Homo sapiens: one gene and its partner. The protein of the gene in region 1 purifies or fractionates together with the protein of each later gene. This does not show direct contact. Each region holds a gene or a part of one and is shown on either strand. Other genes may lie near its edges.

Region 1 (7,023 bases):
TCGACCGTAGTGTTTCTTCTTCCCGTTAGAAGTAGTTTCTTGTTCCCCTCATGGTACATAAATATCAGAGAAAAGTAGTCTTTGAAATATTTACGTCCAGGAGTTCTTTGTTTCTGATTATTTGGTGTGTGTTTTGGTTTGTGTCCAAAGTATTGGCAGCTTCAGTTTTCATTTTCTCTCCATCCTCGGGCATTCTTCCCAAATTTATATACCAGTCTTCGTCCATCCACACGCTCCAGAATTTCTCTTTTGTAGTAATATCTGTAACAAAGGAGATTGCATAAGGTGACTGATCCGATGAAGGTTGCTAGGTAAATAATGGGTCGTACAGCCTTTTTGTTTTCAGAGACATGAAACTCCTCACCTCATAGCTCGGCTGAGCTTTTCATAGGTCATGCTGCTGTTGTTCTTCTTTTTACCCCATAGCTGAGCCACTGCCTCTGATTTCAAGAACCTGAAGACGCCCTCAGATCGGTCTTCCCATTTTATTAATCCTGGGTTCTTGTCTGGGTTCAAGAGGATGTCGCGGATGAATTCCCATAAGTGAGTCCCTCTCGGGTCTGATGAAAAGCAGAAAGGCAGGTTACTAATGATCTAAGTCACAGCAAAGATAGGGCAGAGAGCATTGAGTTAGGTCATCTTCCTGCAAGTAGGAGATACTCATTTCTCCCCTACTTGTCAGGGAAGATGGATCGCAGAATCACCAGATGTTGGACATTAAAAAGGTATTTAAGAATAAACTAGCACAATATTTTATTTTACAAATCAGGAAACCGAGGCACAGAGAACTTAAGTGACTTGATCAGGATCACACAGCTAACTAGTGACATAGCCAAGACTAAGCAATAGGTCTTAGGTCTCCTAAGCCAGGGGGAAGTTTCTTCTAGTTATTATCCACAAATTGCTTGGGGTTCACTTCAACCTGTTACTTCCCCAGAGAGCAACTCTCAACCACTTTTATCCAGTATCTCAACCAATTAAATTGCTTTGACCCAGCAACTGTGTTTCAGCCAAATGCAAATCAGTAAGGGTCTAGAATGTTTACTCCCAGAATAGATGAGGGTGGTAGGGAAAGGGGTGGTCACGCAGGGACTGGAGGACCCAATTTGAAAATGAAGCCACTACTGCAATAAGATTATCAACCAAATTCAACTTTACTCCCACTGAATTTTTGATGCCCCACCCCCACCCCACCCACCTTTCGAGGGGTTGCATTAATATGGTTTTGTGGGATTATGTGAAAGAGCAGATAAAGACATTCTAATTCCTCATAATTTCTGGATTATACCTTTTTTTTTTTTCTGAGACAGGATATCACTCTGTGGCCCAAGCTGGAGTACAGTGGTGCAATTACAGTTCATCACAGCCTAGACCTCCCTGGCTCAAGCAATCCTCCTGCCTCAGTCTCCCAAGTAGATGGGACTACAGGCACGTGCCACCATGCCCAGCTAATTTTTGTATTTTTTTGTAGAGATGGGGTCTCGTCATGTTTCCCAAGCTGGTCTTGAACTCCTGAGCTCAAGTGATCCACCCACCTCAGTCTCCCAAAGTGGTGGGATTACAGGCCTAGATTATACCATCTTGATTTCTTTCTGTGTTCCACCCACAATTCCATGTCTCTGATATTTCGTATATGTTCATAAGATTTTATTACTGAAGGAGACCCAACTCCCAAAGAGCAGTGTTGAATCTTAAGAAAAAACAGTCATTTCTTGGAATGGTAACTCCACAAAGGTAGGAGGCCAACATTTAGCAAAAGAAAGGATGATACATCTCAGCTGTTTCTTCTTATCTCGCTCCTCTTCCCACCCTTTTCTTCTGGGAGAGAGGAAATTGCCAACCCCATGCCTGCAAGCAGTTCTTAGGCACTGGGTGTCTCAGTTTTAGAGCACATATGACAGAACAGGGAGGAAATGTCCAGTGGGGCTCCACTTTGAGAAACAGCTGCAGAGGGGGCTTACTTTGCTAGCAAGTGATGCCTCTATTTTCTCACTCCACCCTGTTTGGGATGAAGACATGAAGGCAGCAGACAGAGGCGATATTTGCCAAAAAACTAGTGGCCTCCAGATGTGCCCGATGTGATGGGAAGGACCAAAGGCCATCTGAAAGCCAGCCAACTTACTGTGCTTTTTGGTGTGGCACTTGGCAGGGGGGTCTTGCTCCTTTTTCATATCAGGTGACTCTGCTAAGGAGAAAAATGAGAGGCGTTTAATTGACCTATTTCCTATAATTCTCTTTTTTATTCATGCATCCACTCATTTAAACAATATTTACTGAGCACCTACTGCATGCCTGGCACCTTTGAGTATGTGCTAGTGAACCAAACAAAACAGAGATGATAAATGCTATGGAGAAAAATGATGCAGGTTAAGAAATGGAGATAGATGTATGGACTTGGGAATAATTTGCAATTTGATACAAGGTGGTCATAGGAGACCTCTCTGATTCCACGACCTAAAGGATATGAGGGAAAAGGTCATGCAGAGAGCTTGTGCAACAGCCTTCCATGTGTAACATAGAAGTGCAAAGGCCCTGAGGTTGATGTGTGTTTGGTATATGCATGCTGTAAGAGGCAGAGAGGGAGGAGCTGAGGTTCTGATCATTAATCCCTTATGGGACTTTTAAGGACATGACTCTGAGAAAGATGGAAGCCATTGAAAGATTTAGATCATTGAAAAATTTGTGGTTTTTTTTTTTTAGCATAATAGAAAAATGTAAACATTTATAACAAAGGAAGATGACTTTTAAGCCAGAGGAGTGCCCTTTTTTGGCATGCAAAGTTACATTTTAATCAGCCTGACAAAGGCGCCATTGAGTGGCCCAAGCTCAATACAGAGGGCCACAGTGGACTATGGAAACACAGATTAGTTTAACAAATGACTCATTATGGCAACCTCTGCGACTATTACCAAAGAGGAGATGATGGAGGCGGACCTGGGAAATAAAAATTCTTCTCAGAAAGAAAACTAAATGATCTAGCCGTGTGTGTGTGAGTGTGAGTGTGTGTGTGTATATGTGTGTGTGTGTGTGTGTGTGTGTATTGGGAGGACCAAAGTAGATCTTACAAAGACTCTCACACTCAAAAATCAGCCAATTTTAATACAAAGTAGTCCCTAAATACAAGCCAATTATTTTAAGAAATTGGGCCAGTAAAACTGATCTCTTTCATGTGCCCTTCCTAAACTAGGGTCCACTGACCCAGTGTGGCCTTCAAGGGCCCCTGGACTGACTGAAACCATATATGAAGGGAGAGGGTTCACAGCATCCATTCAATTATCAGGAGAAGCCTATTATTCAAAAAAGCTATGAACTGCCAGCCATTAGCTCCTAATTAAATTGGTTAAGAAAAAAAAGCTACTGTTTATTGAGCACTTACTATGTACCAGGCACTGTACTAAGCACTTTAAATGAATCACTTTATTTAATTCACACAATAACTCTATGACACAGGTACTAATATGATCCACAGTTTTCAGCTGTGGAGGATCTGAGAAACAGAGGGGTCAAATGACTTGACTAGAGTCACACAGCTGGAATGTGGAGCCAGGATATGAACACAAACAGTTTGAATCCAGAAGCTTTACTCATAACCATGATTCTATGTCATTTCCAGAAATGGTGGCCGGCACATAATCTCCCTTTGCACATAACAGATTTCACACAAGCCTTTCTTGCCAAGAATCAGGTTCACTTCTGTAATGCTCTTGTTAGTAGAAAAGATAATTTCAATCTGACAATTCTATATTTCCCAACGTTCATGGGCCCTTTCAACCATCTTATCACCCAGCTAATCAAGACTCAGTGTTCCCAGCAATTTCTCGAAACGTCATGGCAGGATGGAGAGAGGGATTTAATAAGACCTCAGTAAACAAGAAACCTCTCATCCTGGTTAAGAATTTCTCTCCTGGCATTGTCACTAGCAGGGCCTGCACCTGACTTGGGTTTCTCTGAAATCCGAGAGGACAAATTCACAGGAAATGCAAGGAGACTTCACTCTCCCTCCCTGTAGGTTGCAGGGTGAGGTTGCAACATCCCATCAGGATGTGACAATATTGCGACAGGTCTGGCATCCACCCCGGTTTCCAAGTGATACATCACTCTGACAGGGCCACGTTGTACTGCAGACAAAGAGTGGCATTTACCCAGCAGGCCACAAGCAAAGCTCATTTTCAAATGACATCCAGGAGGGATGCAGGGCCATTATTTCAGAGCCAGGAGTTGAATTCAGAAAAATACAAGAGTCTCTCAGTATATTGGCCTCAATTATTGTTTGTGGGTTCCTAGTTGATCTAGAATCAGTTACTTCAGAGTTCAGGTGCCTTTGTGAATAAGACGAAAACCTTGGACCCTCTCCTCAGAAAAAAATGCACATATATGTACACATGAAATTTTGTCAACAATTTCAGGGGGCTGTGGCCCATGCAGCAGTCCATGGACTCTAAAACCTCTACACTAGATAAACCATGAGGAAATATTCTTTGAGTTGTCAGCCGTTTACCCAAGCTAGGCTCCACCCAGCTAGGAACGTTCTTTTTTTAATCCCCAAATAAAAATCTTTCCATCATCATAAAGGGGAATAAGCAGTCAAAGGCAAAAGAAGAACCTAATTTCTTCCAGACCTCTCTGCCTGTTGCAGTGTGCAGGGGTAAGCCGTGGAATCACTGGCCTGCTTTACCACTGATATCTTTTGATCTTTAACCTCTCTTTAATATGTGTCCTTCTTCTGCCCTAGGATAAAAGTCAAGACCTTTGAAGTTAGCCATGTGGTTAAGTGATTCATTCTTATAAAATAATGGCTTGCCCTGGAGAAGTTGTCCAGCCTGGCTTTCTCTTGCTTGGCTCCCAGGCACTCCAGGCCAAGGTCCTATCCAGTCCAGGCAGGGGCAGCAACAAGCCACAGGTTTGTGATGCAAGTGAGAGAGCGTGACTTCAGCTAAGCTGCTTCGCAAGAAGCAAAGATTAGAAGCATTTGCATATGATTCAGCTGTGAGCCATTTCTTTACGGGATATACAAATTTCAGTGTTCTAATAGACCGTGCCACCCTAGCTTTAGGCTCAACAAGTCAGTGGATAAACACATCAAGCCCGAGCTGGCATGACAGGCTGGAGGACTGTCGAGCAGAACAGGACACCGGCAGCGGGCATTTTATGAAATGGGCAGATGACAGAGAAATCAAAACAAAGCCTATTTCCCCACCTGCGTTTATCACAGAGGGCATCAGTTTACGCTGGGCCTCGCCTTAGCTCAGCTGGTAACTAGCATTAAAACATAGAAAGATATTTCACTGCATTCAATTACATGGGAGCTCGAAAAATAAAGACTCAGGCAAATGACCAAGGTTTTTCCGGGGTTCTGCTTCCATGCAGTAGAGACTATAAACTATTCTGAAAGAAACTGACCCATATAAGGCTGTAATTAACTATCCTACTGAAGGGCTATTACCCCAATGAATACACCAACCCCAGAGACTGCATTGATTCTTTAGGGCCTGGGTGATTGATCTCATTTTCCAGCCTGGGTTACAATCACAGGATAGAAATGGGGAGCTGCAGCAAACAAGGATCAGAAGGGTAAGGAGAGAAGATTCCTGAGCCCATCTTAAGAAGGACTATTGAAAAATACAATCGGTGGACTCAGGAGAGAGCGAGTTCCTTGCTACTGCAAATGCAAAAGCAGAAACTGGCCTCTAAGGCCCCTATTGATTTTGAGATTCTAGAAGGTGTAAGTCAAGATGTAGAAAAGAGGATGGCCCAGCTGTCAGGGCAGCAGAGCTGTAACTATGATGTTTTTGTTTCCCGGGTGCCTCAAGACCTACTAGCCCCTGAGGCTCAGGAAGTGGTTGGTTCAGCTTTATTCTTAGTTGGAATTTTTTGCCGTAAGTCAAAGACCCAAGTGGAAGGATGGAAGGATGGAAGGATGGAAGGATGGAAGGATGGAAGGATGGAAGGATGTGGGAGATGACACTGTAGGAAGTCGCAGAGGAACTCAGAGTGTGACTTGGGAGGTTTCCTCAGCCCTGAACCCCATGGTCTTGACTGAGTGGCAATGATTGCCACAGAAATTTTACCCCGGTTGGCTCAGTTCCCCCAGAATAGCAAATACACAGCCAAGCCTTGCCAGTGTTTGATCTATTCCCTAATTTTAACAAATACCTCAAGTGACACATAATGCTAAGGACCACTGGGGGAAGGAGAAGTCGAGAGCTATGCTGGCCTCAGCTCTTAATCTCAATTCCAGAAGCATTTACATTGGCTCCCAGCCCCATCTCATTTAAGGGGCTTGACCCAAACAAAACCTCAAACCAAAACCTTTCATTATTTCAGTTCTCAAAAGCAAAAACAAAAACAGAAAAAAAGAGGAAGGAAGGGTTGCAGACTAATTTCTTTCACAAAGACCCAATTAAATCCCATTTCTGAAGTTGCTCCAAATTTAATTCCAGGAGAGAGGCACTATCACTTGTGACTGATGTCTAAGTGCCATTTCATAGACCCAAAGAGATCCACAAGTTCATACTCAGATCACGGGAAACCATAAGATCCTCTTTCAACCATTTCCCACACTGTACACGCCAATGCACCTATTTGTAGGTGGGGGTGGTAATCTGAAATCCCCTCTCCCAGACTCCCAACATCCCAAACTTCTCACCCAGTGTAACCTTGGTTAAGGAGCATGGATAGCCCCAGTTGCATCCAAGCTTAACCAAATGCAGCTAAAGTGAACGTAACTCATAAAATGCAGGTGCTCTGACTGATTAGAGAGCACTGATGAGTCATCGGAATTAGACTTAAAAACTGACAAAATAGTGTAACTGTGGGGATTCTGGAAGTTTCCAATGGCTACCCCTTCACCCAGAAACTATCACTACAGGTTCACGGACCTTTGAATTTTACTATGAGGTATTCTTTCTCTAAAGCCAAATGTAGTTTGTTGAAAATTAAATATAGCCTTATTTCCCATAAGTATACCCAAATATGAATAATTTTAGCAGCTATATTGCAAGAGTAAGTTTTCATTGAAAATAA
Region 2 (6,791 bases), about 31 Mb from region 1:
GCACTGTCCTAGCCTTCATGGTCTCTTGGCCTGCAGGGACTCTGCCATCGTTGGGCCACATGCAGGTGGAGGAATCTTTATAGGCTGGGAGCTCAGTGTCCTGGGTGAGGACACTGCCTGATTGAAGCCCCCCATGCCACCCATGAGCTCCTCCTGGGGCTGAGTGGGAGCACAGCACAGACTCCTCCTCAGAGTGCTCCCAGGCAGCCGGCCCTGTTCTTATCTCAGGCCATCGCCCCTCCTCTGTGAGTCTGCCGCCACCCCTGACCTCTGAGAATATTGGGAGTCTCTGGCTGTGTGTGGGGGCTCTAAGGTTTGTTCCTCTATGCCTGTGATGCTGGGGTGTTTGGGGGCTCCACATTTGGAGGCTCAGCCCTGCACCTTCAGCACTGTCTGGGCTGGGACAGCAGCAGCTCTGCTGCAGGTGGCAGGGTGACCTCTCAGCTTGGGCTGGGGAGCTGGGAGCTGCCAGAAGTGGGAGTGGGGGATGGGGGCAGAAGCGAAGCACTTGGAAGAAACCAATGCAAGAAGCAGCACTGGCCATTTATTGTGACAGATACGGCCCACGGACCTGAAGTGCCCTCCACCATGGCCCCAAACCCAATGGCCTTCGCCCTCGGGGACTTATCACATCTGCACACAGTTGTGCTTTAGGAGCTGAGAGGAGTTCTGCCAGGGAACCACAAGGACCTCAAAGTCACAGCGCAGCTTCTGTGGAGGGAATATGGGGGAGAAGGAGGGGTGAGCCCAGCCTCGACCTGTCTCCTCCCAACAGCCAGCCCTCTGCCTGCCAGGCTGCTCCAGGCCAAGAGAGGGACAATCACTGACCCAACGGATGTCAAGCCGCATGTCTGGGGCTAGACTCCAGATCTTGGTAGCCAACTTCCCCATTCCCGAGGGAAGCCCCAGCTTCCTTTCTGCACCCCATCTTGGCCCAGAGGCTGACTCATCCAGAAGGACGACAGGTTCAGCCAGACATCTAGACATCTACGTGTCCAGCCAAACCAGTTCAGGATGGACAACCTGAGTGCCTGAGGCTCTGGGGAGGGCTGGGGCTGGAGGAGCCCAGCTGTTACCTCCTGCTGCGCCCCTGCTGCCAGGGGGCAAGTGGTGAGGTCGACGTGGTCTCCAGTGACCCTGGTCTTGCGGCAGTCTGTGCTCCCCATCTCCATCGTCAGGAAGTACTTGATGCCGGCCACCAGCTGGGGGCATAGGGTAGGGGCAGGTCAGGGGTCTTGACCCTTGATCCTCACTTCTCACCTCTTGATATATTCTCCTGTTGCCCCCAGGCACTCAGGTGGGGAGAGAGGGAGAGGGGATGATTCAGACGGGGTGGGGGGGGGTGGGGGGGGGTGGGGGGGGGAGTTCTGGTGGGGATGGAGGGTGGAGAGGCCTGGAGGCTGAGCCCCACCAGCAGCCTTGGCAGACATCAGACATGCCCCATCTAGGGAGCTGCCCACTGTCCCCACCTGCCTTCCCTCCTCCCCGATCCACCCCATCAGGGCAGAGACTAGGACCAGGCAAGCCAGGAAGGCAGGTAGTGCAATACAGGGTTTAATTATGTCTTTCCTTGAAATTTAGATGGTTGTCCATCGTGGAGTTTTAGCATTAATTCGATTTTTAAAATATTGCATGAAAATATCCCGATTGCGCTTTTAGGCCCCCTTCATGCACGCTGGGGCAGCGCCTGTGGCCTCCCCCATCTGGGCCGGGTGTCCCCTCCCAGCACCCCGCCCGCCGCACCTGGCTCTGCGCCTTGATGATGTGCGTGTCTCGGAAGTAGTAGATGCTGTTGCTGCCCATGTTGTAGCTGGCCACGGCCGCCTGCGCCGCCTTCTGCACCTGCGGGTCGTCGGGCGACAGGTCCCGGAGTTCTCCGACCATGCGCTCCTGCGGCCGGGCCCGGGCGTCGCGTGGCAGCGCCAGGAGGCAGAATGCGACCAGGGCCAGGCCCAGCGCCAGCGGGAGGTTCGAACGCGCCATGGCCGTCAGTGCCGTCGGAGCCCTCAGAGCCGTGAGTGCCGAGCTTGCGGCCGCGCAGCTTTTACCCGCTGGGCCGCCCCGCCCGACGCCCGCGATGCGCCCCCGCGGCCTGGAGCTGGGGCGGGGCTCGAAGTTGCCGGGGTCCTGCGAGGTTCAGGGAGCCCAGGAGGCCGAGGGGGCGGCGCGCACCCGCGTGCCAAGACGCTTCCCTGCCCTCCAGGACACACCTGGCCCGGGGAGGGAGAGGACAGCGACAGTCCCCAGCAACAAGTGCCAGTACAGGGACGGTTCACGGGAGGGCTGTCCAGAATGAACTACCAACCGCAGCTCTTCGTGGGCTCTTACTGTTGCCACCATTTCCTAGCTGTGTAACCTCGGAGAAGTCACTTAACCACTCGCTGCCTCAGTTTCCTCTTCTGTACAATGGGTGTTGTGAGGATTCAGTGAGCTGAAACAGGTAAAGTTCTTAGAAGAGGTCTGGTGCTGGATAAACAGCAGGTGAGTAGGACACATTACTGCTCAGCGCTGCCTGACAACCTTCCTGGAGCGCGAGTGACTAATGTTTCTACCTGGCCAGGCACCTAGGCATGCTTGTAATTCCAGCACTTTGAGAGGCCAAGGTGGGAGGACCACTTGAGCCAAGGAGTTCAAGTCAGTGAATCGTGATCTCACCACTGCAGCATTCCAGCCTGGGCGACAGAGCTAGACGCTGACTCAAAAAAAAAAAAAAAAAAAAAAAAAAAAAAGAAGGCCGGGCATGAGGGCTCACACTTGTAATCCCAGCACTTTGGGAGGCCGAGGCAGGCAGATCACTTGAGGTCAGGAGTTCAAGACCAGCCTGGCCAACATGGTGAAACCCCGTCTCTACCAAAAATACAAAAATTAGCCAGGCGTGGTGGCACACACCTGAATTCCCAGCTACTCAGAAGGCTGAGGCAGGGGAATTGCTTGAACCTGGGAGGCAGAGGTTGCAGTGAGCCAAAATGGCACCACTGCGCTCTAGCCTGGGTGACAGAGAGAGACTCTGTCTCACAAAAAAAAAAAAGAAAAAAGAAAAAAAATAGTTTCCACTTTACAGAGAAGGGAAAATGGATTTGCCCAAAGACACCGGCAGGAAATAAATGGTGACACTGGCTTGTGTGTGCTGACAGTCTAAGTCAAATCTGTGGTCTTAAACCAGACTGAGCCCACAGGACACAAACTGCCCAGAAGGAGGGGGTGTCAGTCATGTCAGCTCTGCCATCTTACTGACGGCATGGCTTTGGGCAAGTCCCTCAACCTCCCACACAGAGCCTCCGTGCCCTCGTCTGAAAGACACCTTATCTCCTAAGTTTGTTCTGATATTGATGTTTCGAATCTGGCTGTCCCGTGGATACAGTGAGCATGTGCTGGAGGTACCAGCAAACAAGGCCCATGACTGTGTTTTTAAAGACTCCAATAATTGCCAGGTGTGGTGGCTCACGCCTGTAATCCCAGCACTTTGGGAGGCCGAGGTGGGCAGATCACTTGAGGCCAGGAGTTCGAGACCAGCCTGGCCAACATGGTGAAACCCCATCATAGCCCGCACGGACCTAGGGGGACTGAACAAAGCCGGGCAAACGTGGGAATAAAAGACAAGAGACAAAAGAGTATATTTGGAAGAAGGGGTCAGGGGGCACCTTGCCTCTAGTGGACAAGGGCCCTGAGCTTTACACAGCCCTCTGTATGTAGTAGGCAAAAGAGATAGCGAGAAAGGGGGAGGGTGATTGTCGGGTATGTCAGGTAATTGTCGGTCAGCACTTTGGTTCACAGCAGGCTTGTGAGACTGCATCCTTTGAACAATAGGTGCTAATTTTCTCAGTAGATAACTTCAGGGACCCCAGTGCCAAGGAGTAAGGCCCTCAGCAAACCTTTTGGTGGCAGGGCAGTGGGAGTTTGCCCACATCCTGCATTCGTGATAAACAGGTGGCTGTTTGATCATATAGCCTTCAGTGGAATGCTGAGTTGGTCACAATCCCTTTGGCCCTTTCGGCTCCCAACACCCCATCTCTACTAAAAATACAAAAATTAGCTGGGTGTGGTGGTGCACACCTGTAGTCTCAGCTACTTGGGAGGCTGAGGTGGGTGAATCACTTGAACCTGGGAGGCAGAGGTTGCAGTGAGCTGAGACGGCACCCACTGCACTCCAGCCTGGGTGACAGAGCAAGACTCTATCTCAAAAAAAAAAGACTCCAATAATTAATTGATTATTATTAATAGGTGGTGATCTATTAATCACACGGTAGCTCACACCTGTAATCCCAGGACTTTGGGAGTCGGAAGCAGGAGGATCACTTGAGGCCAGGAGTTTGAGACCAGCCTGGGCAACATAGTGAGCCGTCTCTACCAAAAAATCTAAAATAAATTAGCTGTGCATGGTGGTGCACGCCTGTGGTCCCAGCTACTCGGGAGGCTGAGGTGGGAGGATTACTAGAGTCTGGGAGGTCGAGGCTGCAGTGAGCAGTGATGGTGCCACTGCACTCCACCTGGGTGACAGAGCAAGACTCTGTCTCAAAAAAAAAAAGGAACAGATGAAAAGCAGTGTTGAAGTAGTCAACGCAAGAAAAGTCTGGATTTTGTTGAATTTTTTTTTTTTTTTGTGACAGCGCTCTGTCAGCCAGGCTAGAGTGCAGTGGCGCTATCATAGCTCACTATAACTCGACTTCCTGGCTTCAAGCTATCCTCCCATCTCAGCCTCCCAAGTAGCTGGGACCACAGGCGCATGCCCCCATGCCTGGTTAATTTTTTTCCACACCTGGCTAATTCTTATATTTTTTTGTAGAGATGGGGTCTCACAGTAGTGCCAGGTGGGTCTCGAATGCCTGGCCTCAAGAGATCACGAGATCCTCCCACCTCAGCTTCCCAAAATGCTGGGATTACAGGCAGGCCTTGGAATTATTTGTCTGCATTTTAGAGTTCAGTGTAGTTTGTATTTGTAATTCCATGTTGCTGGGGGGCGGGGCTTATTGTCCCTGGGGCACTAAGATCTTGCAGTGCTTAGAGCCTCCAGGGGCTTCACTGGGGCTTGGAAGAGGTGCTAGGTCACAGTACGTAAAGAGCAGCTGGCAACTGTCACTGTGATGGATATTGTATGTAGGCATCCAGCGTGTCACCCTCCCTTCCTGATTCTGGGCCTTAGAATCCCAGGACCACAAAAGGAAGTGATTTCCCACACAGAGACCTAGACCACAGCGGTCACTCACTGCCCAGGGCAGCTGCCAGCCTGCTACCCACCTCACTTCCTCAGCCCAGCTGTGGAAAACCAACTCTGCCATCTTCCTGGGATTCCAAGGAACCGTCACAAGTTCCTGGCGGCCTCAGGTGTCTGGCTTAAAGGGACAGACTCCAGTTTGTGGAAGTGCTGGCCGAGCTTGAGTTGATCAGGAGGATGACGCCTGGCCAGGACTCTGAGCTGAAAGCCTGGGAGGGGTAGAGGAAGAGTACCAGGATCGTGCCACAGGGGCGAGGTGGGAGAGGCAGCTCCCCTGGGCCTGCTGTGTCATCACTTGGAGCTTAGCCATGGCCACAGGTACCTCCAACAGCTCTCTCAAAAACTAGCCAAGGCCTGTCTGCCACTCACCAAGGGCACCCACTCCACCTGCCTCTGCTTTGTGCTGATGCAAAGGACTTTTTTTGCAGTACAACCTAGCAATTTCTGAGCACTTTTCACCCACTGATTCTCACAAGCACCCTGAGGGAGTACACATTATCCTCACTTTGCAGATGAAGAAGTTAATCAGAGAGGTCGGGACACTTGTCTAAGGTCACACAGCTAGAAGTGGTATCTTGGTAAGAAAAGGTGGGGAGGATTAACAATGGTAAGAACTCTTGCTGTGTGCCAGGCCTTGCGCCAGGGATTCAATATATGTTCTTTCATTCCCATAGCAGCTCTGCACAGACAATGACTATTATCTCTTCCTACAAGGAGGAAATGGGAGATCAAAGGGGAAAGGTTAGTGGTGGGTCCCGGTGCATGAGTCCTGGGCTGCTCCACAGGGGTTTGAGGTCTGCTGTGCATGGTGTAGGGGTTGTTTCTTGCAGATGGGGTGTCCCTGAGCAGACTTTCCCAGGGCCTGACTCCATCCCGTCTGGACCACTCTGGCTTCCAGGAGGTTTGCGCCAAGCGTGAGCTTGAGGTCGGTCAAATGTACTGGCCACAGGGCAGAGCCTCCAGTTTTGCAGTGGCCCAGACATCCCACCCCAGGTTGTCCACAGCACCCCTCTCTTGCCCCTGGCCTGATGGGTGGAGATGACCAGGGCAGGTTCTTGACATCTCCTTCCCTCTGGGATCAGGCTCTCCAAGGCTTCGATGCTTCCCCCAGAACCCTCTTCCTTGAACCTTCAGTTGGGCAGAGGATATTGCCCTCCCCCCAGGGCTCTGTAGCCCCATATCCTGGAAAGGAGATCTTTCAGCAAGGAAACCTGTAATCCAACAGGGATTAAAGCTCCCCTCTGGGGAGGAGCGCTCCTAAGCGCTGCTGATTCACTGGTTGAATCTTCACAACCCTGTTATCAGCTGGCAGAGGAGGCTGTAGCTCAGGGGAGTGAAGCAACTTGCTCCAGATCGCATGGGGAGCAAAGCCCCAGAATCGGGCCTGGCTGGCTCTTCAAGGCTGCCACCAGTCAAGGTTGGGAGTGACAGGAAAGAGCCCTGGTCCCCACAGGGAGGGGCCAGCCTGGAAAGGGATCAACAGTCACAAGCACCTGCTGGGAGCCTTCCATGCTCAGCAGGCTGCCGGGGGCAGGGCTTGTGGTGGTCCAGGTAGCCTCCCCCTACTTCCTTTCTGGGG

What was found.
Region 2: the proteins of EHF (region 1) and CST6 purify together in Homo sapiens (affinity purification with mass spectrometry; 2 studies listed by BioGRID and IntAct, with this or other methods). This does not show direct contact.

The regions. Positions count from the first base shown.
Region 1 is NC_000011.10:34,652,070-34,659,092, reverse strand, and holds part of EHF (ETS homologous factor), read right to left. Parts: intron 2,186-7,023; coding exon 2,123-2,185; intron 561-2,122; coding exon 365-560; intron 262-364; coding exon 162-261; 3' UTR 1-161. UniProt on the Homo sapiens protein: Transcriptional activator that may play a role in regulating epithelial cell differentiation and proliferation.
Region 2 is NC_000011.10:66,007,237-66,014,027, reverse strand, and holds CST6 (cystatin-M precursor), read right to left. Parts: upstream 2,021-6,791; 5' UTR 1,984-2,020; coding exon 1,744-1,983; intron 1,203-1,743; coding exon 1,077-1,202; intron 712-1,076; coding exon 628-711; 3' UTR 523-627; downstream 1-522.